4 linked regions of the Homo sapiens genome follow. The protein of the gene in region 3 interacts with the protein of the main gene of each other region in a biochemical or structural test. Each region holds a gene or a part of one and is shown on either strand. Other genes may lie near its edges. The genes, in order: SKP1, RNF20, FBH1 and RAD51.

What was found.
Region 1: the proteins of FBH1 (region 3) and SKP1 form a complex in vitro, tested with the Homo sapiens proteins (one study listed by BioGRID).
Region 2: the proteins of FBH1 (region 3) and RNF20 form a complex in vitro, tested with the Homo sapiens proteins (one study listed by BioGRID).
Region 4: the proteins of FBH1 (region 3) and RAD51 form a complex in vitro, tested with the Homo sapiens proteins (2 studies listed by BioGRID, with this or other methods).

What each region holds. Positions count from the first base shown.
Region 1 is NC_000005.10:134,152,943-134,159,966, reverse strand, and holds part of SKP1 (S-phase kinase-associated protein 1), read left to right. Parts: intron 1-1,371; coding exon 1,372-1,512; coding exon of another isoform or gene 1,513-1,539; exon of another isoform or gene 1,540-2,198; coding exon 2,199-2,234; 3' UTR 2,235-7,024. UniProt on the Homo sapiens protein: Essential component of the SCF (SKP1-CUL1-F-box protein) ubiquitin ligase complex, which mediates the ubiquitination of proteins involved in cell cycle progression, signal transduction and transcription.
Region 2 is NC_000009.12:101,543,845-101,550,868, reverse strand, and holds part of RNF20 (E3 ubiquitin-protein ligase BRE1A), read right to left. Parts: intron 6,103-7,024; coding exon 5,984-6,102; intron 4,050-5,983; coding exon 3,903-4,049; intron 3,733-3,902; coding exon 3,655-3,732; intron 3,471-3,654; coding exon 3,351-3,470; intron 264-3,350; coding exon 84-263; intron 1-83. UniProt on the Homo sapiens protein: Component of the RNF20/40 E3 ubiquitin-protein ligase complex that mediates monoubiquitination of 'Lys-120' of histone H2B (H2BK120ub1).
Region 3 is NC_000010.11:5,914,243-5,921,266, forward strand, and holds part of FBH1 (F-box DNA helicase 1), read left to right. Parts: coding exon 1-27; intron 28-1,160; coding exon 1,161-1,329; intron 1,330-1,991; coding exon 1,992-2,214; intron 2,215-3,177; coding exon 3,178-3,265; intron 3,266-3,347; coding exon 3,348-3,434; intron 3,435-4,099; coding exon 4,100-4,236; intron 4,237-7,015; coding exon 7,016-7,024. UniProt on the Homo sapiens protein: 3'-5' DNA helicase and substrate-recognition component of the SCF(FBH1) E3 ubiquitin ligase complex that plays a key role in response to stalled/damaged replication forks.
Region 4 is NC_000015.10:40,690,373-40,698,192, forward strand, and holds the start of RAD51 (DNA repair protein RAD51 homolog 1), read left to right. Parts: upstream 1-4,801; 5' UTR 4,802-5,053; intron 5,054-5,159; exon of another isoform or gene 5,160-5,254; intron 5,255-5,261; exon of another isoform or gene 5,262-5,493; intron 5,494-7,820.

The sequences.
Region 1 (7,024 bases), on a different chromosome or scaffold from region 3:
TCACGCCTGTGATCCCAACACTTTGGGAGGGTGAGGCGGGTGGATCACTTGAGGCTAGGAGTTCAAGACCAGCCTGGCCAGCATGATGAAACCCCATCTCTACTAAAAATACGAAAATTAGGCCGGGCGCGGTGGCTCACGCCTATAATCCCAGCACTTTGGGAGGCCAAGGTGGGCGGATCACGAGGTCAGGAAATCGAGACCATCCTGGCTAACATGGTGAAACCCCGTCTCTACTGAAAATATAGAAAATTAGCCGGGTGGGGTGGCAGGAACCTGTAGTCTCAGCTACTCGGGAGGCCGAGGCAGGAGAATGGCATGAACCCGGGAGGTGGAGCTTGCAGTGAGCCGATATCGCACCACTGCCCTCCAGCCTGGGTGACAGAGCGAGACTTCGTCTCAAAAAAAAAAAAAAAAAATTAGCTGGGTGAGATGGCACCCACCTGTAATCCCAGCTACTTGGGAGACTGAAGCAAGAGAATTGGCTGAACCTAGGAGGTAGAGATTGCAGTGAGCCGAGATCACGCCACTGAATTCCAGCCTGGGTGACAGAGTGAGACGGTGTCTTAAAAAAAAAGTCTCCATTGTAAAAGGATTCAGGTCATACAAAGTATGTCTTCTGACTGCAATGGAATTAGAAATCACAAACAGAAAGGTATCTGGAAAAATCTGCAACTACTTTTAAACTAACACATTTGCAAGTAACCTATGGGTCAGAGAAGAAATAGAAAGTATTTTGAGCTGAGTGGAAGTAAAACACATGAAAAATCGGTGAGATGCAGCTAAAGAAGTACTTAGAGGGAAATTGATGGAATGAAATACCTATATTATTAGAAAAGAAGAAAAGTTTCAAATCGGTGATCTAAGCTTCCACCTTAAACTAGTAAAAGATGAAATTAACTACAAAGTAAACAGAAGAATGAGAATATTAAAGGGCAGAAATCAATGAAATAGAAAACAGGTAAACAATAAAGTCAATGAAACCAAAACCTGTTTTTTAAAATGAGATCAATATAGTGCTATAACTGCTTACGTTTGAACTCTTTAAGTGTGGACAAATATTTTTGCCAAGACCTGATGTGGTATTTGTGTGCATGTGTACACACATACACAACAGTAGTGGCCGTTATTTCACATTTGAGCTAGTATAGTTTGGTTAAGGAAGCAGAAGGATTCAACATTATAGAGGTATAACAAAGAAGGTCACATAAAAGTCTTTCACAGAAGAACTTAGGAGTGATTTATTCTTCTCCCTTTAATTTCTTAAAATTAGCATTTTAAGCTTTATTAGATACGGAGTGTCAATCATTAACTTTGGATTTAGTTTAAAACATCAAGTATACTTTAAGGAAAACAACTGTCTCTTTACAGGCTGCAAACTACTTAGACATCAAAGGTTTGCTTGATGTTACATGCAAGACTGTTGCCAATATGATCAAGGGGAAAACTCCTGAGGAGATTCGCAAGACCTTCAATATCAAAAATGACTTTACTGAAGAGGAGGAAGCCCAGGTAGGTAGCACACAGTTTTGTCTTTGATCACATGCTCTTAAAAAGGGAGTAACACCTATAACATGCCAGCAAAAGAGGTGACTGTATCAAGTAGTCTTGATACTTTAGGGATAATATGTACTTAATGTGTCTTAAACATACTCTTACTGTTCTGTCTTTATGAATCTGAACACTTAGATGATACTGCATTTTAAGCATAAGAACAATTAGTTTTCAATGAGAAGAGCTCTTGTTAATGTATTAACAGTTACTAGTTTTGGCACCTGCAACTTTCTGTATAGACCATACATATCTGACATCAGAAAAGCAGGCCCTAGAGAGAAGTATATACTAGGGTACTTTAGAGCAACTTAATGAGGGGAGGAAATGAAAGAATAGATCAGAATGATTTTGTTGACATGACTACAGACTGAAATAATGTGAATGAATTAACTGAATTTGCTCTGTCAACTTTAGTAAATTGCCCATTGCCTTTGCTTTGTTCATAATTTCAGCAGGGCAGAATAAAAACCATGGGAGGCAAAGAAAGGAAATCCGGAAATATAGTCTTAACCTGGTGTTGTTCTAATTTTCCATCTGTTCTTCTGACTCAACTCACTGGCTATCGATGAATCAGTAGGTAGTATTTATAAGTCTTAGGAAAGACTACTCAAGTTAAGGTACTTCCCTATATCCATCTCTTTTAGGTACGCAAAGAGAACCAGTGGTGTGAAGAGAAGTGAAATGTTGTGCCTGACACTGTAACACTGTAAGGATTGTTCCAAATACTAGTTGCACTGCTCTGTTTATAATTGTTAATATTAGACAAACAGTAGACAAATGCAGCAGCAAGTCAATTGTATTAGCAGAATATTGTCCTCATTGCATGTGTAGTTTGAGCACAGATCCCAAACCTTACGGCCAAGTTTCTTCTAGTATGATGGAAAGTTTCTTTTTTCTTTGCTCTGAATAAAACTGAACTGTGGGTTCTCTATAAGTGGCATTTTGGGCTTTCCCTCTTTTTTGTAAAGCAATGTCTGCCTAGTTTATTGTCCAGTTAACTTTAGTGACCTTTTAAAAGTTGGCATTGTAAATAAAACAACTTGCAAAAAAGTTTTCTGGAATAGAATTAACAAAATATTATCTTTATTCATGAGTTGGAAACTGGAAAAAGGCTTCTTGAAGTAAATGTTCTGAGTGGAGCTACTAGGATGTCTTCCAGCCTCCTGCAGTCAAGGAGTACCACTGTATTGATTAGCCTGTATGTAGCAGGGCTCCCTTCATTGCATCTGAGGACTTGTTTTCTTTTTCTTTATTTTTAATCCTCTTAGTTTTAAATATATTGCCTAGAGACTCAGTTACTACCCAGTTTGTGGTTTTTTGGGAGAAATGTAACTGGACAGTTAGCTTTTCAATTAAAAAGACACTTAACCCATGTGGGATGTCATCTTTTTATAATTAGTGTTCCCATGTGGAGAAAATTATTCACACTACTTGCATGTAAAGAATAATTTAACTTTTAACATTAAAATATGTGGTAAAACCCAGAAAGCATCCATCATGAATGCAAGATACTTTCAATAAAAAGTAAGTTATATAGTAGGTAGTTAAGTTTGCTTTTGTGGACTTAAATGTGTCTCTTCACTTAAATGGGTTGAATGTGTATATATTTGTTCAGCTTGAAAAGACTTAGTTTATATCCTAGCTCACTGGAGGCTGCTGACATAACCATAACTTCTGTCCCTTCTAATTGTCATTTATATGCCTAACTGGAGCTAGTACTTTAATTCTTAACACAAAATTACTCTGCCATTGTTTCCAGCTTCCCTCCTACAATAGAATGAAGTTTTTTTGATGGCTTGAGATGGCTCACAAATTTTGATTTTTTTTTCTTCCTTGTGCTCCCTTTTTTTCTCCTTGCTTTTCCAGTTAACATCTATATTCACATGTAATCTTGTTTTCTCTTCACATTCACTGAGTTGTTCAGGCTCAGATCATCCCTTGACAGTAGTTTGCCTTCATCTCACCTTTCATTTGTCCCAAATTCACCTTATTTAATAAAGTCCCATATGTTGTCTCACTTAATTCCAATTTGTTGTCTGTACCAGAGATAGGAAACTATAATGTGTGGGTCAAATCAGGCCCATAGCCTGTTTTTGTAGTCTTTGAGCTAAAAATGGTTTTTACGTTGTAAAGAGTTATTTAAAATTCTCTCTCTCTCTCTCTCTCTCTCTCAGGAGATAAGCTTGTTTTCTGTTTGTCCTGGTTTTAGTGGGGAAGGTAGCGGTGTATAGTCCTAGCTGAATTGTCTCATCTACCAATTCCTGCTATTATAAGATCAACTTCTGCAAAAACCTTATCCACCTCAAGTATCCTTAGCAGCTGGGCATGGTGGCTTATGCCTGTAATCTCAACATTTTGGGAGGACAAGACAGGAGGATCGTTTGAGCCCAGGAGTTCAAGACCAGCCTGGGCAACACAGAAAGTCCCTGTCTCTCCAAAAAAAAAAAAAAAAATTAGCAGTCATATGGTGCATGCCTATAATCCCAACTACTTGAGAGGCTGAGGTGGGAAGATGGCTTGAGCCTGAGAGGTCGAGGCTGCAGTGAGCTGGCATTGCACCACTGCACTCCAGTCTAGGCAATAGAGCGAGACCTTGTCTCAAAAACAAACCAGAAGTATCCTTAGCAGTATTATGACAAACAAATCTTCACTGAAGGTCCAGGATTACTGCCATATGCCATGTTTAACTTGTAAAGGAAGTATCACCTTCTAAGAAACTGGAGCTTGTTATTACCACTTGATCTGTATAATACTCAGCAGTAGTTAGAATTATATGAGTAAATAACGTCACTATCCGTATTTAAAGGATAATGAGATCTTTCAGAAAGATTGGATGGACAGACAATATAGTAGTAATTTAAATTTTTGTTTCCTGACTTTCTGTAGTCCCTAAACAAACAACAAAAAATCCTAGTAATCTTAAACTTTTACATTAATAGAGATCCAAGAGAAAATAAGCCATTTTTCACCATTGTGGACCCAAATAAATCATAGACATGGTATTAAGAAGCCCTTTTCAGTCTGGTTGCAGTATTATTTTCCTACCTTTCTTTTTCCTGTTCCCTGCTGTATGCCCACTATTCCTTTAATATATCTACTAGAACTTTTCTAGGCTTTCACCTGGAGTGAGTGGTCCTTTCTCATTATCACAGTAGCCAAACCTCAGTCTTCAAAACTCCACTCATTTCTGGCTACTCTCTTACTTCCCAACTATTCTTCTAAACTAATATTGTGGCATTAAGTCATACCTTGAGGCTGGAGTTTTAGTGTCTTCATGGCCTTGGGCAAGTTGGAAATAGGTACTACGGTTTTATAGATCTAGTGCAGTCTGCTTTATATTAGTTCCAGAACTTCATTGGAAGTCACTTGACAGCAGGATTTAACTTGTATTTAGCAGCACTACTCCATGAATTTCAGTATAAGTAACAGAAGTGAAAAGTCCTTGTGAAATGCAGGTACAGGGCATAATGAAAACAAGAAGAGTAGTTTTAATGCATGAGAGGGGAGAGCTTGATAATAGCTGATAATAGCCTTGGTTTGGAGAGTGGTTACTGATGAATTATGAAGACTTTCTCTAATTACTGTTATAGTAGTAAAGGAAAGAAAACCCTTGTTGATAAAGTAAACTTAGGGATTAATTAGGAAATGCCTTTTATTTCACCAGGAAAGAGAATGAGAGGAAGAAGGTATTTGGCAGATTTGGGTGATTGAAGGATGTTTGTCGGTTTCCTCTGTAAACAACATGCTGCTTTCTGCAGTGTGCTGCTTTTAATGATGAAGTCCTTTCAAGGACTCCATGGCAGTCCTTTGGCTTCTCACCTTTTCATTGATTATGTCACTTGTGATCTAAAAGTAAACCAAAACCTTCCTGAATGTTAGCTTATTATTTTCTCCTTAACATTGTCATAGGCTAAAGATGTGCCCCCTCAAATTCTAATAATTTTTTTTTTTTTTTTTTTTTTTTTGAGACAGAGTCTCACTCTGTCGCCCAGACTGGAATGCAGTGGTGCGATCTCAGCTCACTGCAACCTCCGCCTCCTGGGTTCAAGTGATTCTCCTGCCTCAGCCTCCCGAGTAGCTGGGATTACAGGCACATGCCACCATGCCTGGCTAATTTTTTTGTGTTTTTATTAGAGATGGAGTTTTACCATATTGGCCAGGCTGGTCTTGAACTCCTGACCTTGTGATCCGCCCGCCTTAGCCTCCGAAAGTGCTGAGGTTACACGTGTGACCCACCGCACACGGCCCTAATAATTCTTAAGTTGTAGAAGCAAGTTACTCTTTTGAAGTGCCATGTGTTAGCTTGCCTTAATCTATTCTTGGTATACAAAATAGATACTGCTTTACAGTTCTTATATTTTCTCAGAGATTCACAAAATCATCCTGTAGCTCCCTGTGTGGGATTATAGCTGTGACTTTTTACTCTACAACTGTCAGAATACACCAGCTCCTGGAATTAAGCAAGAACTATATTGTGACTTGGTTGGACAGGTAACTGCAGCCTTGTAACATGACATCATAGTAATGCTGAGCTTATCTTAAAACTAGCTGGGGAGGGAGGATAGTAACAGTGAGTCACTGTGGGCATCTCACTTAGGGCAGGCAGATATTCCAAATCACATTGATTTTTCAGTTTACGTAAAAATTGACCAATCCTATGGGCTGTGTTCTGATCCCAACATAAATTTTGTTTAAGTTAATTTGCCTAGGCTCTCAATAAGGCAGTTTGGGAATATAAGGTGATTTTCCACCAGAAAAGAGAAAATTGAGAGAGCAGCAGACCTCTTGCTCTCAGCACCCTTTACAAGCTTAACTTTTGCTTGCCACCATTAGCTTTTGAAGATTTTTTTTAACTGCTCCTTGCAGAGCAGGACTACCCCATAGGCAGTGTGCCCAGAGTAGCCCGAAGAGCTTTTTGATTCTTCTTTTAAGAGACAAGGTCTCACCTCTGCCCCCCAGGCTGGAGTGCAGTGATGTGATCACAGCTCATTGCAGCCTCGAACTCTTGGGCTCCAACAGTCCTCCTGCCTCAGCCTCCTGAATAGCTAGGACTACATGTGTGTGCTACCATGCCTTGCTAGTTTTTGTTTTTTTAAATTGATTTTTATAGAGATGAGGTCTCCTCATGTTGCCCAGGCTGTTTTCGAATTCCTGGGCTCAAGATCCTCCTGCCTCAACCTCCCAAAGTGCTGGTATTACAGATGTGAGCCACAGCACCCACCAATTTTTCCTTTTCTAAAGCTCAGTGTACATTCTGGTAGGAAGGAATCAACCAAGTAAATGTTCTCCCTACAAAGTTGTTTGAGGATTTGAAAAGTTAATCTTCAATTATCTGGATTTGAAACCAGTCTATAACTTTTTAAGCTAGGAAGAAGTCAAGAATAAGAAGATTGCAAGCAAAGGGAAAGCTTACAAAATGGCTGAATCCTTAAAGTGTAGCTCCTGGCTTCTCCTTGGTAGGAAGCATTAG
Region 2 (7,024 bases), on a different chromosome or scaffold from region 3:
GATTAATTGCACATGAGGGAGTAAAATTGTAAAATTTAGGAGGCAAGAAAGCTTACATACAAAAGACAAGGCAAGGCTATTACCTCAATAAGCTCAACCTGGTGCTGGTGGGTTCCTCTGGTGCCATGAAGCAGGGTCCGAGCCTCATCCAAGTGTGCTTTCAACTGTAGGCTCTCATTATACAAGACGGAGAACTGTGACTGCATGCAGCGATATTCTGGAGTTTCCTTAACGACTTGCTCCACTGCACTCCGCAATTCCACCTTAGGAGGGCCCAAAGCAAAGTCAGAAGCAGAATCTAGCATTGCCCCAGACGCTAGACAGGAAGTAAAATTTTGAACTCACTGATGTCCTACACAAGAGAGACAATTTTATAAAGATTATTAAGTTATCTACCCATTGCTGTAGTTATGTAAAATCTACCCCAAAATTAAATTAGACTAACTAGGAGATGGTACCTGGATATACTGTATTCTTTCCTCCTAGAATTGTTTTGATATGTGTTTTATATTCTGTGTCAAATGAGCCACCAGAAGAGTGAAATTTGTCAGGATGCTTATTTTAAAAACATAGTTGAGGACCCCAGTCACTAACTTGTTCTCTTTAATAACAGTGACAGAGAAAAAAATTGACAGGGTATCAAAAATAGTTATGCCTCTCCTAAGCAACTATCTGATTTAATTACTCAAACACTTTTAACTGATTTAACTTAGGTTGTTTTTGTTTTTTATTTTTCAGTTCAAACATCTTTATTCATATCATTTAACCTACAAACAACTTGTAAAATAGAGATGACTATGATCGAAAGAGGAGTGAGAAAGACTTCCAGAATCTCTTTTCTTCTCCTAAGATGTGGGCGGCAAGCCACCCAGGTGCCGAGGCAAGAGACCGAGGACACGAGCTGTTCCAGTATAATAAAATATAAAACAAGAATAGTTATGCCAGATATAGATCTTAGATATGATTATATATGAATATCATTAATCATCAGTTTGTAGCAATTACTCTTTATTCCAATATTATAATAATCCTCGCTCTATAATCATAACCTAGGAAAAACCAGGCCATACAGAGATAGGAGCTGAGGGGACACAGTGAGAAGTGACCAGAAGACAAGAGTGCGAGCCTTCTGTTATGCCCAGACAGGGCCACCAGAGGGCTCCTTGGTCTAGCGGTAATGCCAGCTTCTGGGAAGACGCCCGTTACCAGGTGGACCGTGGTCTAGCGGTAGCGTAAGTGTCAAGGGAAAACACCTGCTACTTAGCAGACCAGGAAAGGGAGTCTCCCTTTCCCGGGAGGAGTTTAGAGAAGACTCTACTCCTCCACCTCTTGTGGAGGGCCTGACATTAGTCAGGCTCGTCCGCCGTTATCCGGAGGCCTAACCTGTTCAGTGGTCACGCTCCTAGGCCGCCTTCATGTTCCATCCTGTACACCTGACTCTGCCTTCTAGATAGCAGTAGCAAATTAGTGAAAGTATTAAAAGTCTCTAATTATCAGAAATAATGGCATAAGCTGTTTCTCTCTCTGTCTCCTCTCTCTCTATGCCTCGGCTGCCAGGCAGGGAAGGGCCCCCTGTCCAGTGGACATGTGACCCACGTGACCTTACCTACGATTGGAGATGGCTTGCTCTCCTTATCCTGCCCCTTTGTCTTGTATCCAATAAATATCAGTGCAGCCTGGCATTTGGGGCCACTACCGGTCTCCGCAACTTGGTGGTAGTGGTCCCCCAGGCCCAGCTGCCTTTTCTTTTATCTCTTTGTCTTGTGTCTTTATTTCTACACTCTCTCGTCTCCGCACACAGGGAGAGACCCACCGACCCTGTGGGGCTGGCCCCTACACTAACAACCTAAGAAGAAAATTCTTCTGGGCAGGTTTGAAGACCAACAGGATCACCAATCGTGTTTCTTTCTCTGTTTTGGTAGCAAAAAACTGCAGAGCCAAACCTGTGGAATCACTTCGGTAAGCACTGACATGTGAATGGCCTCCCTTCCACAGTATATATATGCCCCCTGCAAACATCTTGTATACAAGCCCCACTTTAATGCATTTTGGATCCTCACCCTAGTTTACCCTACTTCTCATTTTTCTCAACAACTCCTACATTACAGCACCTTGATTTAGTCTACATATCTTTGTATGTTGCTTTAAATCCTTTTCAGGGCAAGGCAGAGTACATATAATAAGTAAATATGTAAGTAAAGAAGTAGATATATCAACAAAACTTAACATTTTTTCTTTGTTCCCCCCAGCTTTATTAAGGTATAATCAACAAATAAAAATTATACATATTTAAGGTATACAATGTGGCATTTTGCTATACATATACACTGTGAAATCATTACCACAATCCACCTAATTAACAAATCCTTCACCTCACAGTTATCTTTTCGTGTGTGGCAAGAACATTTAAGATCTACTCTTAGCATATTTCAAGTACACAATACAGCATTAATTATAGTCACCATGCTACACATCACCAGAACTTATTCATCCTGCATAACTAAAACTTTGTACCTTTTCCCCAACATCTTCCGATTTCCCCAACCCTGGTAACCACCATTCTACACTCTGCTTCCAAGATTTTGACTTTTTTAGATCCCACATACAAGTGAGATCATGCAGTATTTGCCTTTCCGTGCTTGGTTTATTTCAGTTAGCATAATGTCCTCTAAATATATCCATGCTGTTGCACATATACACACACACACTCACATACAAACACACACCACATTTCTTTATCCATTCAGTGTACAGTTCTTTCATCTCCCTGGTTAAGGTTATTCACAATTTTTTTTAATGGTATTGTAAATGGGATTGTTTTCTTAATTTCTTTTTTATAGAGTTTGTTGTTGGTATATAGACACACAATTGTTTTTGTATGTTGATTCTGTAGCCTGCAACTTTACTGAATTCATTTATAGTTCTAACAGTTTTTTCGTGGAGCCTGTAAGGTTTTCTATATATAAAGTCATGTCATCTATAAACAGAAACAACTTTACCTCTTCCTTTCTGATTAAGAGGCCTTTATTTCTTATCCTTGCCTAATTACTCTGGCTAGGACAAAAGTAATGACAGCGAGCATCTTTATCCTGTTCCTGATCTTAAAGGAAAAGCTTTCAACTTTTCGCCATTGGGTATAATGTTGGCTGTGGGCTTGTTTTATATGGCCTTTATTATGTTGAGGTACACTTCTTTACACCTAATTTGTTAAGAGTTTTATCATAAAAGGATGTTGGATTTTGTCTACATTTTTCTTATCCCTCATGAATACGCAGATTCACAACTATGTATATACGTGAGTTGATCAGCAGAACGTCTGATTTTACTGCCCTTCAGGGATGCGTTCCTACCTTCAGCTTTTCATTTTGTGTAGTGACCTCCTCAAAGTCTTGCCGAAGTTTCTCCAGCTCACAGAGACGGTTCTGAGCCAACTCTTTGTTCTCCTCAAGCTCTGCATTCATTTCCTCAAACTGCAGAGAAGCAGAAAAATAGAGAATAAATAAGTATTCTTCTTAAATCATTTCTAAGCTTCCTTTCTTCACTGATTCGCTATTCCAGCAAAACCCCATGATGTCACTTGTGAACACAGTCCTAAGTACCTAAGCATGAAAGCTGACATACAGTCCAAAACATGTCCTGAGTCACTGATTTTACCTTCCGAGCATTGATAGTGATTGTGCCGCCATACAGACTGCTCCCCGCTCCATACACCTTATAACCTTTGGAATTCACCTACAGAGAACACAAAGATTCTTTAGTGAGAGACTCTTAAGATTTCAGTCTATAACCAATGTACCTTCAAAGGATGAGATTTTTTCCTCAAATACCATGCCCCAAGGTGAGTCTTCCTGAGAACACTCCTTAAAATGATTCTAGTCTCCAAGCCATAAAACAGCACTGACCCGTTCTAGGACTTCTGCTAAGTGTCGGTTGAGTCGCTGTTCCCTCTTTCGAATTTTGTCAATATCCCACTGCAGGTCATCAATCATGGACTCCAGGACAGACACTCGTGATTCGGCTGTCTCCACTTTACTCTGCAACTTGGAGAACTACATCCCAAAGACAAACATTCAGAAACATATAGCAAAAAAAGACCAAATTCCATAATATTAACCCTTGCTTATGAGTAATTATAGAAAAGAGGCAAATAGAAGATGCTTCACCCTCTTCCCAATGCATGATTACAAAAATGAAATCACGGATTCCTCCAACAATTCTGTGTCAGTTATAATCATGCAAACTTTAAGTCTAAAGTCTATAAGAACTCTCACACAAAGAAAAGACCACCTAAGATTCAACAATTTTTCTACCTCTGAAAAGCACCATTTCTCTGGACAGACCACAAACTCATAAAAATTTTGTAATTTTTTAAGAGATAATAAATAGTATCTTTTGTTTTGTAAGATAAATATTTTTTCAAAAAAACCATTTTTACCCCCAAATTTCTCTCCACAGTCCCACAAAAGGTAATCCATTCATTCACAACAAAAGAAAACTTCCATACTCTTTTTTAAGCTCACCCCAGAGCAATCTAGAGTCAGATACAATACAGTATAGATTATACTATAATCTAAAGTCAGATACTCTATTTAGGAGCTATACACCAGCTAACACTATTTAGTATTTTAACTACTAAACTATTACAAGTTCACATTAATCTATATATACCCTTTGTGCTAGGTTTTAAAACATGACACAAAAATCCTTTGAAAGTCCTCTGAACAAGAGGTGGGATCTTTGTTCCCTCCTCTTGAATCTGGGTCAACTTTAGAGACCCAATGGAAATGTCACTACACAATTTTGAGGCTATATCAGAAAGGCCATGAAGGTTCTACCTGGTGATCTTGGGATGCTCACTGGAAGAAGTCAGCCAACATGTAAAAATTCCAACCATCCTGAGACTACCATGATGGAGAGGCAAACTGCAGGTATCCCAGTAGACAATTAACCCAGCTGACAGGCAGCATCAACAGCCAGCCATGAGAGCCAACAAGGACATCACAGTTTAGCAAACAACTGCCCTCCAGGTTAGTAATACTATCTGAGATTTGTCAAAGGGCTAGAAAAGGAAGACCTCTCCATCTTGGTAGCACCTAGTCAATGTCTTAAAACATGATAAAAATATTCTATTTTCTTACTAGACTCCAGTTTATTTATAAGGGCTACTACATTCTAACCCCTTTGAAGGTCCAGGATAATCCATATGAATTAATAAATTCCCCAGATGATATTCATGCAACCAGGCCAGCATGGACCTTAACACTGGGGTTTAGTAAACAAAGGCATATGAAGAACAAGAGCTTTGAAGTCAAACAGACCTACAGTCACAACACAGCTCAATCACTTTCTAGCTATGTGCCCTCAGAATAATCACTAACCTCTTTGAATTTGTTTCTTTGGCAATAAAATGGGAGTTGTTTTGCCATTAGAGATAACATTCATAAAGTGCTTAAATTCTAGGCACTAAGTAAATGGCAACTACTAAATTACTAATTAGCATAAGAATTCAGTGGCCAAACTAAGGTGGGGCAAATTCCAGTAGAATATATTTTGAACTAAATCAAAATGATCATCAGAAGTATCAGAAAAGTCATTTAAGGCCTATCATCACTTTATCTTGATCATTTTGTGTAAATAAATAAATGTCCAAATCTTGGCATGGTTTAATCATGGCATTATTTGCACCCAAGTTTAGACTGAAAATTGACATTCCTCAAATTCCTAGGACATCATCAATACAGTAGTTTCTACTTCCCCATTCCCTGTGGAATTTCTACCACGCCATTCCTCAATAACACTATACAGTCTTTTATATTTAGGGTAATTCATTATTTGGAGGTTTGGAGTTGTGTTGTGTTTTACAAAATCCCCTATGATATGATAGGCCTTCTAGAGTAAGGTAATCTTTGAGGTGCTCAGAATTGTAAGTCAACATCTGCCACAGCCCACTAGACACAGCCATCTCTCCTTTTTGGTTAAGTACCTCCTGAGACATGGTGCGATGCTTTTCCTGAAGAAGATCTGTCAATTCCTGTAGCCTCATATTCTCCTGTGCGAGGAAAGAGTTCAGCTCCTGCACTGCTTCCTCCACTATCAGATTATCTGGGGAAGAAGAACTATACTTTAATTTAGCATCTAGAGTGTCATTTTTTTTTTTTTTTTAAGACGGAGTCTTGCTCTATCGCCCAGGCTGGAGTACAGTGGCGCGATCTCGGCTCACTGCAACCTCTGCCTCCAGGGTTCGAGCCGATTCTCCTGCCTCAGCCTCCAGAGTAGCTGGGATTACAGGCACATGCCACCACACCCGGATGATTTTTGTATTTTTAGTAGAGATGGGGTTTCACCATGTCGGACAGGCTGGTCTCAAACTCCTGACCTCAGGTGATCCACCCACCTCAGCCTCCCAAAGTGCTGGGATTACAGGTGTGAGCCACCGTGCCTGGCCTATAGTGTCAAATTTTAAAACTGTGTATCCTTGGCCAGGTATAGCAGCTCACGCTGTAATCCTAGCACCTTGGGAAGCCAAGGCAGGCCGATCACTTGAGGCCAGGAGTTCAAGACCAGCCTGAATAACAAAGCAAGAATCATATGCTCTTATCACATATTCTCATATCATATATTCTGAAATACTATGTTAGGGGCACTTCTGAAGCTTAAAAACCAAAATGTACACTACTATTTACAAAGCAGGTAGGTAAATCCATAGAACTTATTACACCAAGTTCGTATGTTTAAAATTAGAGTTGCAAATACTATAGCTGAAATCCAAATGTAATTAAATGAAACCAGATACTCTCAGGATATATACCACCCATCAAAGAGAGTTATCAGGAAGAAAAATATGCTTTCTCATATCACCTCTTGGCATTACTCTTAGTATCAATACAGAACAGGTTGGTCATATGGTGGTTTTCATGGTTTTCAAGCTAGGCTTGCCCATCAGAATCACTTGTGGAACTTTTAAAATAGACATTTCCCTAGGACCTATCTCATACCTACTTAATAAGAACCTCCATGGGCAAAG
Region 3 (7,024 bases):
AGGTGGTGAAAATTATGGCCTTTGCCGGTAAGGGAGCCCACATCAGGTTCACGAGGTGGTGGTTTTCTGCCTTTTCTCCCTACATCCCCTTCCCGCTACCTGCCAGGGCATCTTTGCTCTGATCTGTCATCCAACTAATAATTCAATAACAGATCAAATAATCAATCTCAAAAGCAATTGGCCAAGGAATACTTACTTCCCCGGACCACTCCATGAACATCCACAGAATTCCTGTTGAGACAGGTAGTTCACAGCAGTTAGTTGGTCGGGCAGATGCCCCCGGGATTGAGCCCAGCATTGTGATGTTTGCTCAGGCACTGATTGCTTCTGGAGAGGGAGGGCATGTTAATCCCCAGCCCAGGGTTTCAGGAGCTCCCCAGTTTTATAGGGTGATGTCTAGAGGGCCTGCCTTAGATTGGCTTTTAACTTACATTCATAAATATATTATCTACAAGTGTCCTGCCTCAGTCAGCCACGCCGATCCACTCACAGCCTCCTGAAGTACTTGGTTACTCTTTCATCACAGCCTTTGCTCGTGCTATTTGCTATTTTTTTTCTGCCTGTAATCCCTTCCTGCTCCTTTTGTGGCTAAATACCCTGCTAACAACAACAACAACATTTTGAATGCCTGCAGTGTGCTTGGCATTGTGCTGATCCTGATAGCATTCCGTAAGGTTGCTTAGTTATTCTTGTTTTATAGAGGAAGAAACTGAAGCACAGAGAGCCTTGCCCGGGGTTGAATAAGTGGATAGGTGGTGGAGGTGGAATTCAAAGCTGGACCTGTCTCTCTCCAGAGACATGCCTTCCCCCTCCCTAACCCTACCCTCCTATCCTGAGGGGTCCTTTTTGCCCTCGGGAACCCTACCTCTAATGGATACCCACTTATTTCTGAGAAGCAAACTGAAGCTCATGAGGTCAAGGGGTCCACCTGTCCTTTGCCCCTCGGCTGGAGCCTGCCCCAGCTGAGATCCCAGCCCACCTTCACCTGGCTTTGAATCTGCTGCTCTTTTGGTGGCACTACTTTTACCAGCACTGAAAAACTTGTTACTGTCCTGCTCTCAAGACAGAGGTGTGATAAGCCTGGACAAGGCCTGATTGGGGATCCCTGGGCATGTCTTGTCTGGTCAGAGGGTCACCTCCTTTCCTCCTGGCTTCCCCAGGCACTGGGAAGACCTCAACGCTGGTCAAGTATGCAGAGAAGTGGTCTCAGAGCAGGTTTCTGTATGTGACATTCAACAAGAGCATCGCAAAGCAGGCCGAACGCGTCTTCCCCAGCAACGTCATCTGCAAAACCTTCCACTCCATGGCCTACGGGCACATAGGGCGGAAGTGAGTACTGCTGTCACTAGTGGCACTGTTGCTGCTGGCACGGTCGCGTCTTACTGTTTTCCCGTGACGATCACATGTGAGCTTACACCACAGTGACCCCGAGGAGTGTAGTGCTGTTATCTCCACTTACAGGCAGGAAACAAATACATAGGTTTAGCCATTTGTACTTTTATCCTGTAGCAACATATTGTTTACATATAATGCCGTCTTGCCAAGAGGGGTGTTCTCATGGAAGTGAGGCACAGAAAGTCAAAATGACTTGCTTAAAGTTCAGAGTCTCACAAATCCTGATCAGTTGTAGGCTTTTCTTGGAAGGGAGTGAGGAAGACTCAGCCGAGGCACACTTGACCCAGGTCTCCTGGATGTAGAGGCATCAGGGAACTCCAAGGGTCCCTCCGGGGACCTTCTGGAGCCCAGCTTCATGGTGGAATAGCAGTGTCTGCCGAAAGCTGGTTCCTATTCTGGGTTGGTACATGTGAGTCCTGAAAGCCATTTCCAGTCAGACATGGACCATGCAGAACTTTTTCGCTTTAAAACATTAACACTCGCCTGTGTGTGGCACTTGAAGCTACCTCCTGGTGACATTAGAGAGAATGGAGGGGACGTTCAATAGCACCAAGCCAGGAGAGCCACGTGCTGTTCATTTGGGATGGGTATTGCAGGTACCAGTCAAAGAAGAAGTTGAATCTCTTCAAGTTAACACCCTTCATGGTCAACTCCGTCCTTGCTGAAGGGAAGGGTGGATTCATAAGAGCCAAGCTTGTGTGTAAGACTCTAGAAAACTTCTTTGCCTCGGCTGACGAAGAGCTGACCATTGATCACGTGCCTATTTGGTGTAAGAACAGCCAAGGACAGAGAGTCATGGTTGAGCAGAGTGAAAAACTGGTGAGTGTCTAAGTGTCTGAAGTGTTAGGGATCTGAGGATGGGGGAACAGGGGAAGTGTTAGGGATCTGAGGATGGGGAAACAGGGGAAGTGTTAGGGGTCTGAGGATGGGGAAACAGGGGAAGTGTTAGGGGTCTGAGGATGGGGAAACGGGAAGTGTTAGGGATCTGAGGATGGGGAAATGGGAAGTGTTAGGGGTCTGAGGATGGGGGATCAGGGGAAGTGTTAGGGATCTGAGGATGGGGGAACGGGAAGTGTTAGGGATCTGAGGATGGGCAAACAGGGAGTGTGGGACAGCATTATTTCTTCTTTCATTTCTTCAGACCTGGTCATAGGAGGTTGAAGGTGGGAGGGTGAGGCTGTAGGCCCATGGTGATGGCTGTGAATTGTTGGGTATTTTCTCCTGTGAAGGACACTGGTGACCATCTCACTTAAGCCTCGGAATAGTCCTCCCATTTAACAGAGAAGGCAGACATGGAACGACCCGCCTCAGTTTATAAGAGCTTGTCACTGGGGCTCCTGGACCTCAAAACTGATCTTAACTGAAGGCTGGAATCTCTCCTGATTTTCTTGGGTTATTGGTTCTATGGAATAGATTTTGCTAGTGGGAAAGTCTGTTTCTTTTTTTCATCAAGTCTTTTCAATCATGTGCCATTGTTTTTGTGAATTAAGCATCAGTCATAAATCTAGAAGAACAATTTGGCCTTTTCTGGTTCACCTAACTGTTATGATCTCTGTCCTGTCACGGGCATGGCACGGCCCGGCTGCTTCCTGTCTCAGCACTGGAGACCCTCTGGCGTGGAGAGGCTGTTGAGGAGACCCAGGAGGTTAGGGTGGTGTCTGCGGTCCCCCTTCTGTGAGGATGCCCTGGCTCCACTGCTGTATGGGAGTTGACAGTGTGACCGCAGGGTGCTGCCTTTGCCAGGGTCTCAAACTCTGGGTTACCATATGCTTTACTTCCTAGAATGGTGTCCTTGAAGCGAGCCGCCTCTGGGATAACATGCGGAAGCTGGGGGAGTGCACAGAAGAGGCGCACCAGATGACTCATGACGGTAGGCGGCTGCCGAATGGCGGGGACTGGCCAATGGGACTGCCTTCCTGGCGTTACAACTCCTGCGTCTCTCCTTATTTTAGGCTACTTGAAACTCTGGCAGCTGAGCAAGCCTTCGCTGGCCTCTTTTGACGCCATCTTTGTGGATGAGGCCCAGGACTGCACACCAGGTGATACACTGTTCAGGACATCAGTAGTGTCAAATACGTAGAAACAGCGCCATGATTATGTAAGAGGACACCTGTGTGAACTAAGTTGATTATTATTATTTGTGATAAAGAAGAGGATCTTCATACTTACCTTAGGATTTCAAGCTGCCCCTTCCCCTCACCCAAGCAGATTTCTCTGTCACCATAGGTTTTGCTTAGGTTGTTCTTAACATGTTGACCAAGTTGTAGACCAGCAGACGACAGGGACCTAGACTCATGCTCTGTGGGAAGAGATCGTCCATTGACAGGGAAAAGCTTGTGTTGTCTACTTCTCAAGTGGCTAGGAGAGAACAGACAGTGTTATCCGTCTGACTTTGTAGGTCAATTTTGAGTGCTATAATATTAGAGAAGACACTGCCTCATTTTAGATTTGCCTGTGTTGTTTTCTTATATTCCAACAATTCATCCAAGGCGAAACATAATCTGCATTCCTAGCACCAGAAACTGTTTCTTTTGTCCATTATAAAATGGCTGCTTTTGATGGAGTGTGCCTGTCCTACAGGAAAAGGCGACCGTGAGGTCCAGTGTGCCCTGGCTTAGCTTCGTGGAAGTGTTTTTGTCCTTTTCTTTTTGCTGCCTGGGGTGGAGGCCTCAAGGTTTCTCACTTTTCCTCTCGTTGGTTACAGCTATCATGAACATAGTTCTGTCTCAGCCATGTGGGAAAATCTTTGTAGGGGACCCGCACCAGCAGATCTATACCTTCCGGGGTGCGGTCAACGCCCTGTTCACAGTGCCCCACACCCACGTCTTCTATCTCACGCAGGTAAGTGCGCACTCTGCATGGGAGGCATTGCATCTCTCTCCCAATGTCTTACGTGCCAGGCCCTGTGAAAGGTGGTATGCCAGGCTCACCAGATCTAGCAAATCCTTGCTTCTAAGCCATGGTTCTCAAAGTGTGGTTCTCAGGGGTCTGCCAAGTCACACTGTTTTCATAAGAGGTGTGTGCACAGCGGTCGTCTGAGGAAGAGCTGCTGCGGCTGAACTGTGAACCGATGGCTGCTGCCGCCTTGTACATTTGTGCTTAGAACAGTTGTTAGACCAGCGCTGGTTGTTCAGACTTGTGTATTTGGCACTTTTTCAAAGACAAGTGAAACAAGCTGCGACTTCAGGGAAAATAACTGACAGTGTTTGTTGTCAAAAGTAACATCTTTGCTTTCAAGTGAAATTAAAATGTTGGCAAACTCTCCCATAATGAATGTGACAACTCACAGTGTCCTTGATTATGCGAAAAGTTTATTATGCGCTCCTTCCTTTCCAATCACATGTCTGTGTGAGGTTGAATTTTCTTCATGTGTGTCAGCCAAGACAGTATATCTCAGCAGGCAATGCAGATGTGAACACAGGAAGCCAGCAGTCTTCTGTTATGCCAGGCATTGAAGAGATTTGCAAAAATGGAACATGGTGCCACTCTTCTTGCTGCATTTTTTTTTGTTCTCGGAAATATGTTTCAAAAAATATGTTCTTTATGTCATCATATAAGAGGCTTTTGGCTGGGCATGGTGGCTCATGCCTGTAATCCCAGCATTTTGGGAGGCCAAGAAGGACAGATCACTTGAGGTCAGGAGTTCAAGACCAGCCTGGCCAACATGGTAAAACCCTGTCTCTATTAAAAATACAAAAATTAGCCAGGTGTGGTGGCTCCCGCCTGTAGTGTCAGCTACTCAGGAGGCTGAGGCAGGAGAATCACTTGAACCCAGGAGGCAGAGGTTGCAGTGAGCCGAGGTCGCACCATTGTACTCCAGCCTGGGTGACAGAATGAGACTCTGTCTTAAAAAAAAATAGTTTTTAATAGTTATTTTTAAATGAATTAAAATTTATAATATGGTAAATATAGATAGATAGAGCTCATGTAAATAAAAGCTCTTTGGAGGCTTTTTAAGTGTGATTTTTAAGTGTGAAGCATCCTGAGACCAGCAGTTCGAGAACCACTGCTTTTAAGAAACTTATTTCTGATTAGAAGAGATGTCTCACTTGGATGAAAGTATCAACTGTGCTGTGTTTTGTGATGTTATTGAAAGTTCCGTAGACGCCTCTGTGACTCTTCCCTTGAGCTCCTACTGCTGTGGTGATTTAGGGTAGCGTCACTGCAGAGGTGATTTGTTCTTTTAATAGATGGTATTTTTTTAGAACAGTTTCAGATTTACAGAAAAATCGAGAGGAGAGTTCCCATATATCCTGTACTCAGTTTCCCATTACTAACATCTTATCGTCTTATATTAATGTGGAACACTTGTCACGATAATGAACCAACATTGATACATTATTATGGACTGAAGTCCATGGTTCATTTGCATTTCCTTAGTTTTGAAATAATGTCTTTTGTGACTTCAGGAGCCCATCCAGGATCCCACATTACATGTAACCATGTGTCATGAGGCTCTTCTTGGCTGTGACAGTTGCTCAGACTTTCCCTATTTCTGATGTGACCTTCACATTTTCCAGAAGTTCCAGTCAGGCATTTGTAGGCTGCCCCTGTGCTGGGATTTGTCTAATGTCTTTTCTCATGGTTAGGCTAGAGTCCTGGGTTCTGGGAGGAAGACCACAGAGGTGAAGCGCCATTTTCATCACATGGTGTTGAGGTGCATACTGTCACCATGGCTCATGACTTGATGTTGACCTTGACCACCTGGCTGATGTAGTGTTTGTCAGGTTTCTTCACTGTAGAGTTCCACTTTTTTTCATCCTTTCCTTACTGGATGCTTTGGAAGGAAGTCCCTATATGCAGTCCACACTCAAGGAGTAAGTGTTGGAGAATCTTCCCAAATTATTTGGAATTCTTCTGTAAAGGAGATTTGTTTTTTCTCTCCCATCTATTTAAATATTCAATCATTTATCTATCTTAATATGAACTCATGGATATTTATGTTATAATTTCGGTTATGGTTCACTCAGAGTAGTTTTATAGCAACAAAGTAGTGTTTGTTTAAAGTCTAGTTTTCGTTTGACTGTTACTGCTATTCACCAAAGCACATGAAGTTGTGTGTGCATGGAAAAAGGCTGTACACACCCCGAGTGTAGGGAAGAATGATATCTTGCCAGCTGGAGGGGCGAAGGAAGCAGGGTCTTGGGCTGAGTTTTGAAGGTTAGGAAGTGACTTTGGTGGATGAAAGTCAGACAGAAAACCGCGTGGGCTGAGGCAGGGCAGCACGGACAATGTGCAGGTGCTAGTGCTTCTGCCATGGCTGGTTGGTGCAGGGCAGTAGTTTTAAAGGTAGTGTGGAGAGGGATCTCAAAGGCAAGGGGAGAAGCCCTCCTTACCCGATCTTCATCTTTTGTATGATTTAGACTTCACTAGATTTGATTTGGAGAAAAGGGTAGATTTGCTTAAAAGAAAAATTTACTATTGGTGTTGAGAATAATGGAAAATAAAGACTGCTGAGTTGTGAAGGACCTTGAAAGTGAGCCTGTGAAGTTCGCTTTCCATGCGGGGGGTCAGGAACAACTTGTAGGGTCTGGCCCGGCCAGGCTGTGGCAGCAGTGATGGAAATGCACGGACACACCACAGGGCGGGCTGCTGACTCCCTCTGTCTTGTTGTTTTCAGAGTTTTCGG
Region 4 (7,820 bases), on a different chromosome or scaffold from region 3:
ATTTTGTAAGCATACTAGAGGAGGTGAATTAGGAGCAGATTAGATCACTTGATACACATTACCTTATATATAAAGAATACATATATATGTATGTGTGTGTGTATGTATCTCTATATATATACATTTATATATATGTATTTATACTTTTTTTTTTTTTTTTTGAGACAAAGTTTCACTCTTTCGCCCAGACTGGAGTGCAGTGGTGCAAGGTGCAATCATAGCTCACTGTAACCTTGAACTCCTGGGCTCAAGCAATCTCCCCTCCTCAGCTTCCCAGACAGCTAGGACTACAAGTGTGCATCACCGCACCTGGCTAATTTTTAAAAAAAGGTTTTTTTTGGCCAGGCGCGGTGGCTCACGTCTGTAATCCCAGCACTTTGGGAGGCCGAGGCGGATCATGAGGTCTGGAGTTCGAGACCATCCTGGCCAACATGGTGAAACTCCATCTCTACTAAAAATACAAAAAATGAGCCGGGCGTGGTGGCATGTGCCTGTAGTCCCAGCTACTCGGGAGGCTGAGGCAGGAGTATCGCTTGAACCTGGGAGGCCGAGGTTGCAGTGAGCCCAGATCTCACCACTGCACTCCAGCCTGGCGACAGACCGAGACTCTATCTCAAAACAAAAACACAAAAAAAACAAAACAACATTTTTTTTTGTAGAGTTGGGGGGTCTCACTACATTGCCCAGACTAGTCTCTAACTCCTGGCCTCAAATGGTCCTCTCACCTCAGCCTCTCAATGCACTAGGATTACAAGTGTGAGCCACCACACTCCAAAATTTTTCAATTAACACATTTATAAATATTCTCAGAGAATGCCAATTTAACTATTAGAGGGAAATCTAGTTTGCCTTATTTCCAAGTTCTCAGTGGGTTGTTTTGGAAGAAAGGAACAGAAACTACTCAAACTAGTTTAATCAATAAAAATAGAAGGTAGAGTTATTGGAATGTAGGGATATCTCATAACTCAAGAGCATTAATCCTTAAGAGTTCAAGGTTTTTTTTTTAAAAAAAAAAAAAAAGTAAAAAAGAACCCAAGAGCAGGAGGAGTAAGTACTGCTAGGCTTCTGAGAAACTGGAAAGGCGATCTGGAAAGGAGTCAGAATTCAAATGGTTTATTTATCTTTGACTCTCTCCTTAGTATCTCAATTTCTTTTTCTTTTTCTTTTTTTTTTTTTTTTTGAGACAGAGTCTTGCTCTGTCATCCAGGCTGGAGTGCAGTGGCACGATCTCAGCTCACTGCAACCTCTGCCTCCCAGTTTCATGCGATTCTCCTGCCTTGGCCTCCTGCGTAGCTGGAGGCTAATGTTTGTATTTTTAGTAGAGATGGGGTTTCACCATGTTGGTCAGGCTGGTCTCGAACTCCTGACCTCAGGTGATGCGCCTGCCTCAGCCTCCGAAAGTGCTGGGATTACAGGCTTGAGCCACCACACCCGACATCAATTTCTTAATCTTTCTGCAGATGTGCTTTCTCTGATTGGACATTCACACACATCTATCTGTGTACTTTGCCCCATAAATTCCTGAGGTCAGACTTGAATATAAAGCCAAGTCTAATTTTCCAGGAGCAGGAAAATGATTGGCCAATTTGGGGCCAGATGAACACTGCTGGTACAACTGGTGGCCAGAAAGGTAAAAGTCATGTGACTACAGTCAGCTAGGAGGAGGGCTGTAGGTTTGCAGATGCTCTAAGGGTGTGGGAAGAACCGGAGGCAAAGGTGTGTAACTTTGATATGGAAGAAAGTTCACTATTATCACAGGTAGTATCTATAATCACTAAGTTAGGTTGTTTCTACATCCAGAAAGCTGCCTGAGTCTGTTCTCTCTGTCATTCCTCTAATTCAGAGGACCCCAACGCCCCAACACAGACCTGTCGCCTATTAGGAACTGGGCTGCACAGCAGGTGAGCAGCTAGCAAGCAAGCATTACTGCCTGAGCTCTGCCTCCTGTCAGATCAAGGAGAGCATTAGATTCTCACAGGAACTCAAAACCTATTTTGAACTGCACCTGTGAGGAATCTAGATTGCACACTCCTTATGGAAATCTAATTGATGATCTTGAGGTGCAACAGTTTCATTCCGAAACCATCCTCTGCCTCATGCCCACCCCCCGAGCCCTGTGGAAAATTGTCTTTCACAGAACAGCTCCCTGGTGCCAAAAAGGTAGAACTGGAATCTAATCCAAATCTTCATCTCTTTGTTGAAATATTGCAAGAACTTCCTTTTTGGTGTCTTCACTTTCACGCTCCTGAAATCTGTTCTTCAACGCCACAAGGTAATAGTGTGAGGATTAACTAAAAACTTTGTCAACTTTAAAGCACTCCACAAATATAAAGTAGTAATAAGGCCATTGCAATGGTTCACACCTGTAATTCCAACACTTTGGGAGGCCAAGGTGGGAGGATCACTTGAGGCCAGGAGTTCAAGGCCAACTTGAACAGAGCGAGATGCTGTCTCAAAAATAAAAAAATAAGGCCGGGTGCGGTGGTTCACACCTGTAATCCCAGCACTTTGGGAGGCCACGGTAGGTGGATCACCTGAGGTCAGGAGTTCGAGACCAGCCTGGCCAACATGGTGAAACCCTGTCTCTACTAAAAATACAAAAAATTAGCTGGGCGTGGTGGCAGGCGCCTGTAATCCCAGTTACTTGGGAGGCTGAGGCAGGAAGACTCGCTTGAATCTGGGAGGTGGGGTTGCAGTGAGCTGATACCACGTCCCTGCACTCCAGCCTGGGCAACAGAGCAAGACTCCATCTAAAATAAATAAATAAATAAATAAATAAAAATAAAAATAAATTGGTAAGTGGAGGGAAAATAGATCTAACCAAATGACTTGTCTTCTTAAAAACTTCAATGATTTCTTCAGTACCTAGAGACCAAAGCTCCTTACCTTTTTTTTTTTTTTTGAGACGGAGTCTTGCTCTGTTGCCCAGGCTGGAGTGCAGTGGCGTGATCTCGCTCACTGCAACCTCCACCTCCCGGGTTCAAGCACTTCTCTGCCTCAGCCTCCCAAAGAGCTGGGATTACAGGCATGCACCACCACGCCCGGCTAATTTTTGTAGTTTTAGTAGAGATGGGGTTTTGCCATCTTGGCCAGGCTGGTCTTGAACTCCTGACCTCGTGATCCGCCCACCTTGGCCTCCCAAAGTTCTGGGATTACAGGCTTGAGCCACCGCGCCTGGCCTCTCCTTACATGTTTTGTTGTTGTCGCTTGTCTTTTGAGACAAGGTCTCACTCTGTAGCCCAGGCTGGAGTGCAGTGGCCCATCATAGCTCACTGCAGCCTTGACGTCCTGAGCTCAAGCAGTCCTCCCACCTCAGCCTCCGGGATAGCTGAGACCACAGGCACAAGCCACCACGCCCAGCTTATTTTTTTTTTTTTTTTTTTTGAGATATGGGGTCCCACTATGTTGCCCAGGCTGGTCTCCAACTCCTGAGCTCAAGCGATCCTCCCCCACCTTGGCTTCCCAAAGTGCTGGGATTACAGGTGTGAGCCACCGTGCAGGCCTTATATGATCTTCATATCCTGAACTAAATGTAACCTTCCAGTTTCGGCACTTGCTCTGGCACTTTTCCTCCCTCGCCAGATAATACTAATCTTTAATCATGTAGTTCGTTTCCATGCCCATACTACCCTATTTGCTTATAATGTCTTCCACTTCGCCCAAGAATCCCTACTCAGCTAGCTTGTGGTGTTGTTTTGACACAGTCTCGCTCTGTCGCCCAGGCTGGAGTACAGCGGCGAGATCTCGGTTGGCTGCAACCTCCTCCTGAGTTCAAGCGATTCTCATGCCTCAGCCTTTCGAGTAGCTAGGATTACAGGCATGTGCCACAAAACCTGGCTAATTTTTGTATTTTTTACTAAAGACGAGGTTTCACCACGTTGGCCAGGTTTATCTCCAACCCCTGACCTCAGGTGATCCGCCTGCCTTGGCCTCCTAAACTGCTGGGATTACTGGCGTGAACCACCGCGCCCGGCCCTACTCAGCCTTTAAAACCGGAATCACGGGTCAAAACTTTCTGGTAAACCACGATACGGTTTAGGTTATGAAATTCAATGCCCCCTTCCTCTGAACTCCTGCAAATCTCCAGTAAAGCACCACAGATTGACGAATATTCCAGCCATTTCCCTCTCCCGTACGCTAGCTCCATTTCCCACTTCTATCCATCTTCTCGAGCTTCCTCAGCTCCTCCACCTCCATGAGGCCTGGAAAGCACCTTGCTCCAGGAATGCGAGTAGGAGGCTCAGAGCGACCAGAAGTGCCAAAAGCTGACATTCAGATACTGCCGAAACAAACCACAAGAGCGCTAGGGCCCCCGCTAATAGTCCAGCTGCGATGGTGAGAACTCGCGGACCCGCCGGCGATGCATGCCGGGAGATGTAGTCCCGGGCCGACGCATTACCTCTTGGGAGTCGTGGTCTTCGATCTGGTAAACAGAAGACGGCAACTCGGTTAAGTCTTCCCCCACCGCCCCCTGAAATCCCTCGCCCCACCCGCGAGGGACTGGGGTAGGAGTAGGGGCGTTGCCGTGGTTAGCCTCGAACTCCTAGGCTCAGACGATACTCTCGCCTCGGCCTCCCGAGCAGCTGGGACTACACGCGTGAGCCACCGCCCCCGGCATAAAGTTTGAATTAGTCCTTACGCAAAAAGGGAAGAGGGCAGTCTGTAAACTCGCGCAGGATCAAGCTCTCGAGCTCCCGTCTTGGGTTAGCGCGCAGGGCGGAAGCGGGGAGAAGGCGGATCCGGGAGGCGGGGATACGTTACGTCGACGCGGGCGTGACCCTGGGCGAGAGGGTTTGGCGGGAATTCTGAAAGCCGCTGGCGGACCGCGCGCAGCGGCCAGAGACCGAGCCCTAAGGAGAGTGCGGCGCTTCCCGAGGCGTGCAGCTGGGAACTGCAACTCATCTGGGTTGTGCGCAGAAGGCTGGGGCAAGCGAGTAGAGAAGTGGAGCGTAAGCCAGGGGCGTTGGGGGCCGTGCGGGTCGGGCGCGTGCCACGCCCGCGGGGTGAAGTCGGAGCGCGGGGCCTGCTGGAGAGAGGAGCGCTGCGGACCGAGGTGAGTGTGTGAGGCGCAGGCTGGGCCCTCCAGAGCCGCGGCTCGTCCTCGCCCACCTGCGTCCTGGCCGGTCCAGTGCTCAGCGGCAGTTGGGGCCTCCGCGCGCAGTGTGAAACCCGGACGTGGCAGGGCGTGTCCGCGCCCGACCGACCCTCAGCTGCTGGGGCGAAAACACAAGTGGACCTCAGTCTTTAGAACTAGGGGAGAAACATTAGAGCCTTTATAGGCAACACCTATTTTATGGGTTCGAGCGAGAAGTCCGAGATCAGAGCGGTGTAGCCACAGCTGTTTAATATCACAGCCAGGGCTTCCGGATTCCTGATCTGTCTTTCCATTACACCGTGCTTAGAAAGTACCAATCTCCGATTGCCAAAACAGTGTTTTCATCATCTAATGCGGAAAACCATTCACATGATGCCTAGAGAATGATCTGAAGTGAGGTTTGGTTTTCTTAAAACTTTTTTTTTGAGATGGAGTCTCGCTCTTCCGCCCAGGCTGGAGTGTAGTGGCGCGATCTCGGCTCACTGCAACCTCCGCCTCCCGGATTCAAGCGATTCTCCTACCTCAGCCTCCCGAGGAGCTGGGATTACAGGCCCCCACCACCACGCCGCCAGGCTGATTTTTGTATTTTTAGTAGAGACGGGGTTTCACCATGTTGGTCAGGCTGGTCTCGAACTTCTGACCTCAGGTTATCCACCCGCCTCTGCCTCCCAAAGTGCTGGGATTACAGCCGTGAGCCACAGCGCCTGGCCCCTGTTTTTTTGTTTGTTTGTTTGTTTTTAACTTCTAAAGCGCAATGTAATATACATGTAGAAAAATTCACATTCACAACTGTATACAACTCCGTGAATTATTACAAAATATACTGGCCGGGCGTCGTGTCTCACGTCTGTAGTCCCAGCACTTTGGGAAGTGGAGGCGGGAGGACGATTGAGCCCAAGAGTTCGAGAACAGCCTGGTCAAGATAGTGAGACCCGCATCTCTACAAATAGGAAAAATTAGCTAGGCATGGTGGCGTGCACCTGTAGGCCCAGCTATTCAGGAGGCTGAGAAGGGAGGATCTAGCCTGGGAGGTATAAGCTGCAGTGAGCTGTGATCAGGCCACTGCACTCCAACCTGGGCGATAGAGCAAGACAAAATGAATATACACCTATGTAATCACCACTTAATAGAATGGTCCTCAGAAGCCTTCCTGTGTAGTATTTAATATTTTCCCCTTTTTACAGTGGTAACTGCTATACTGGTTTCTAATGAGATGAACTAATGTTGCTTGTTTTTGAATTTTATATAAAAATACATCAGGAGTGTTGAGTGTTTCGTTGTTTCACATGCTTGCCAACACGATATTTTTCAGCCTTTTTGATTTTAACTATTCTGCTGGTTACACAGTAATGTCTTAATGTGATTTTAATTTTCCTGATTAATAATGATGTTGGACATCTGTTCATATGTTTTTGCCCATTTTGATATCTTCTGTGATGTGCTTGTTCAAATCTCTTGCCTATTTTTCTATTATCTTTTTCTTACTGATGTGAAGTTCTTTATATACTGGTTATCAGCCCTCAGTTATGTTTGTGCTAAATGTTTTCTCTACTGTGGTTTGACTTGTCACTCTCTTAGTGGTGTCCTTTGATGAATAGAAGTGCTGAATTTATTTTTTTATTATTTATTTATTTATTTATTTTTCCTTTTGAGACAGAGTTTGGCTCTTGTTGCCCAGGCTGGAGTGCAATGGCACAATCTTGGCTCACCGCAACCTCCGCCTCCCGGGTTCAAGCGATTCTCCTGCCTCAGCCTCCCGAGTAGCTGGGATTACAGGCATGTGCCACCACGCCCAGCTAATTTTGTATTTTTCTTTAATAGAGACAGGATTTCTCCATGTTGGTCAGGCTGGTCTTGAACTCCTGAACTTAGGTGATCTGCCCGCCTTGGCCTCCCAAAGTGCTGGGATTGCAGACGTGAGCCACAGTGCCCAGTAGAAGTGCTGAATTTAAATGTAGTTCAGTTTTCAGTCTTTTCCTTTTTGGCTAGTGCGTTATGCATCCAGTTTCAAGAAATCTTTTTCTGTCCCAAGGTTGTGAAAATAATAAGTGTTACTTTGTTTTTGACAGACGATTGTACATATTTATGAGATACAAGATGATATTTCTTTTTTTTTTTTTTTTTTTTTGAGACGGAGTCTCACTCTGTCGCCCAGGCTGGAGTGCAGTGGCGCGATCTTGGCTCACTGCAAGCTCCGCCTCCTGGGTTCACGCCATTCTCCTGTCTCAGCCTGCCACCACGCCCAGCTAATTTTTTGTATTTTTTAGTAGAGACAGGGTTTCACCATGTTAGCCAGGATGGTCTCGATCTCCTGACCTGGTGATCCACCCGCCTTGGCCTCCCAAAGTGCTGGGATTACAGGCGTGAGCCACTCCACCTGGCCCAAGATGATATTTCAATACATATATACATTGTATAATGAATGATCAAATCAGGGTAATCAGCATATCCATCAGTTCACTTAAACACTTGTCATTTCTCTTTGTGATGAGAACATTCAAAATACTCGCTTCTGGCTATTTTGAAGTATACATTACATTAGTGTTTACTGTAGTCACCCTACTGTGAAATAGAACCCTAGAACTTATTCCTCCTATCTAACTGAAACTTTGTGCCTGTTGACCAACCTCTCTCCTTCCTGCCGCCCCCTGCAACAGCTGCATTCTCCTCAGTCTCTGGTTACCACTGTTCTATTTGTTCCTTGTATGAGATGAACTTTTTTTTT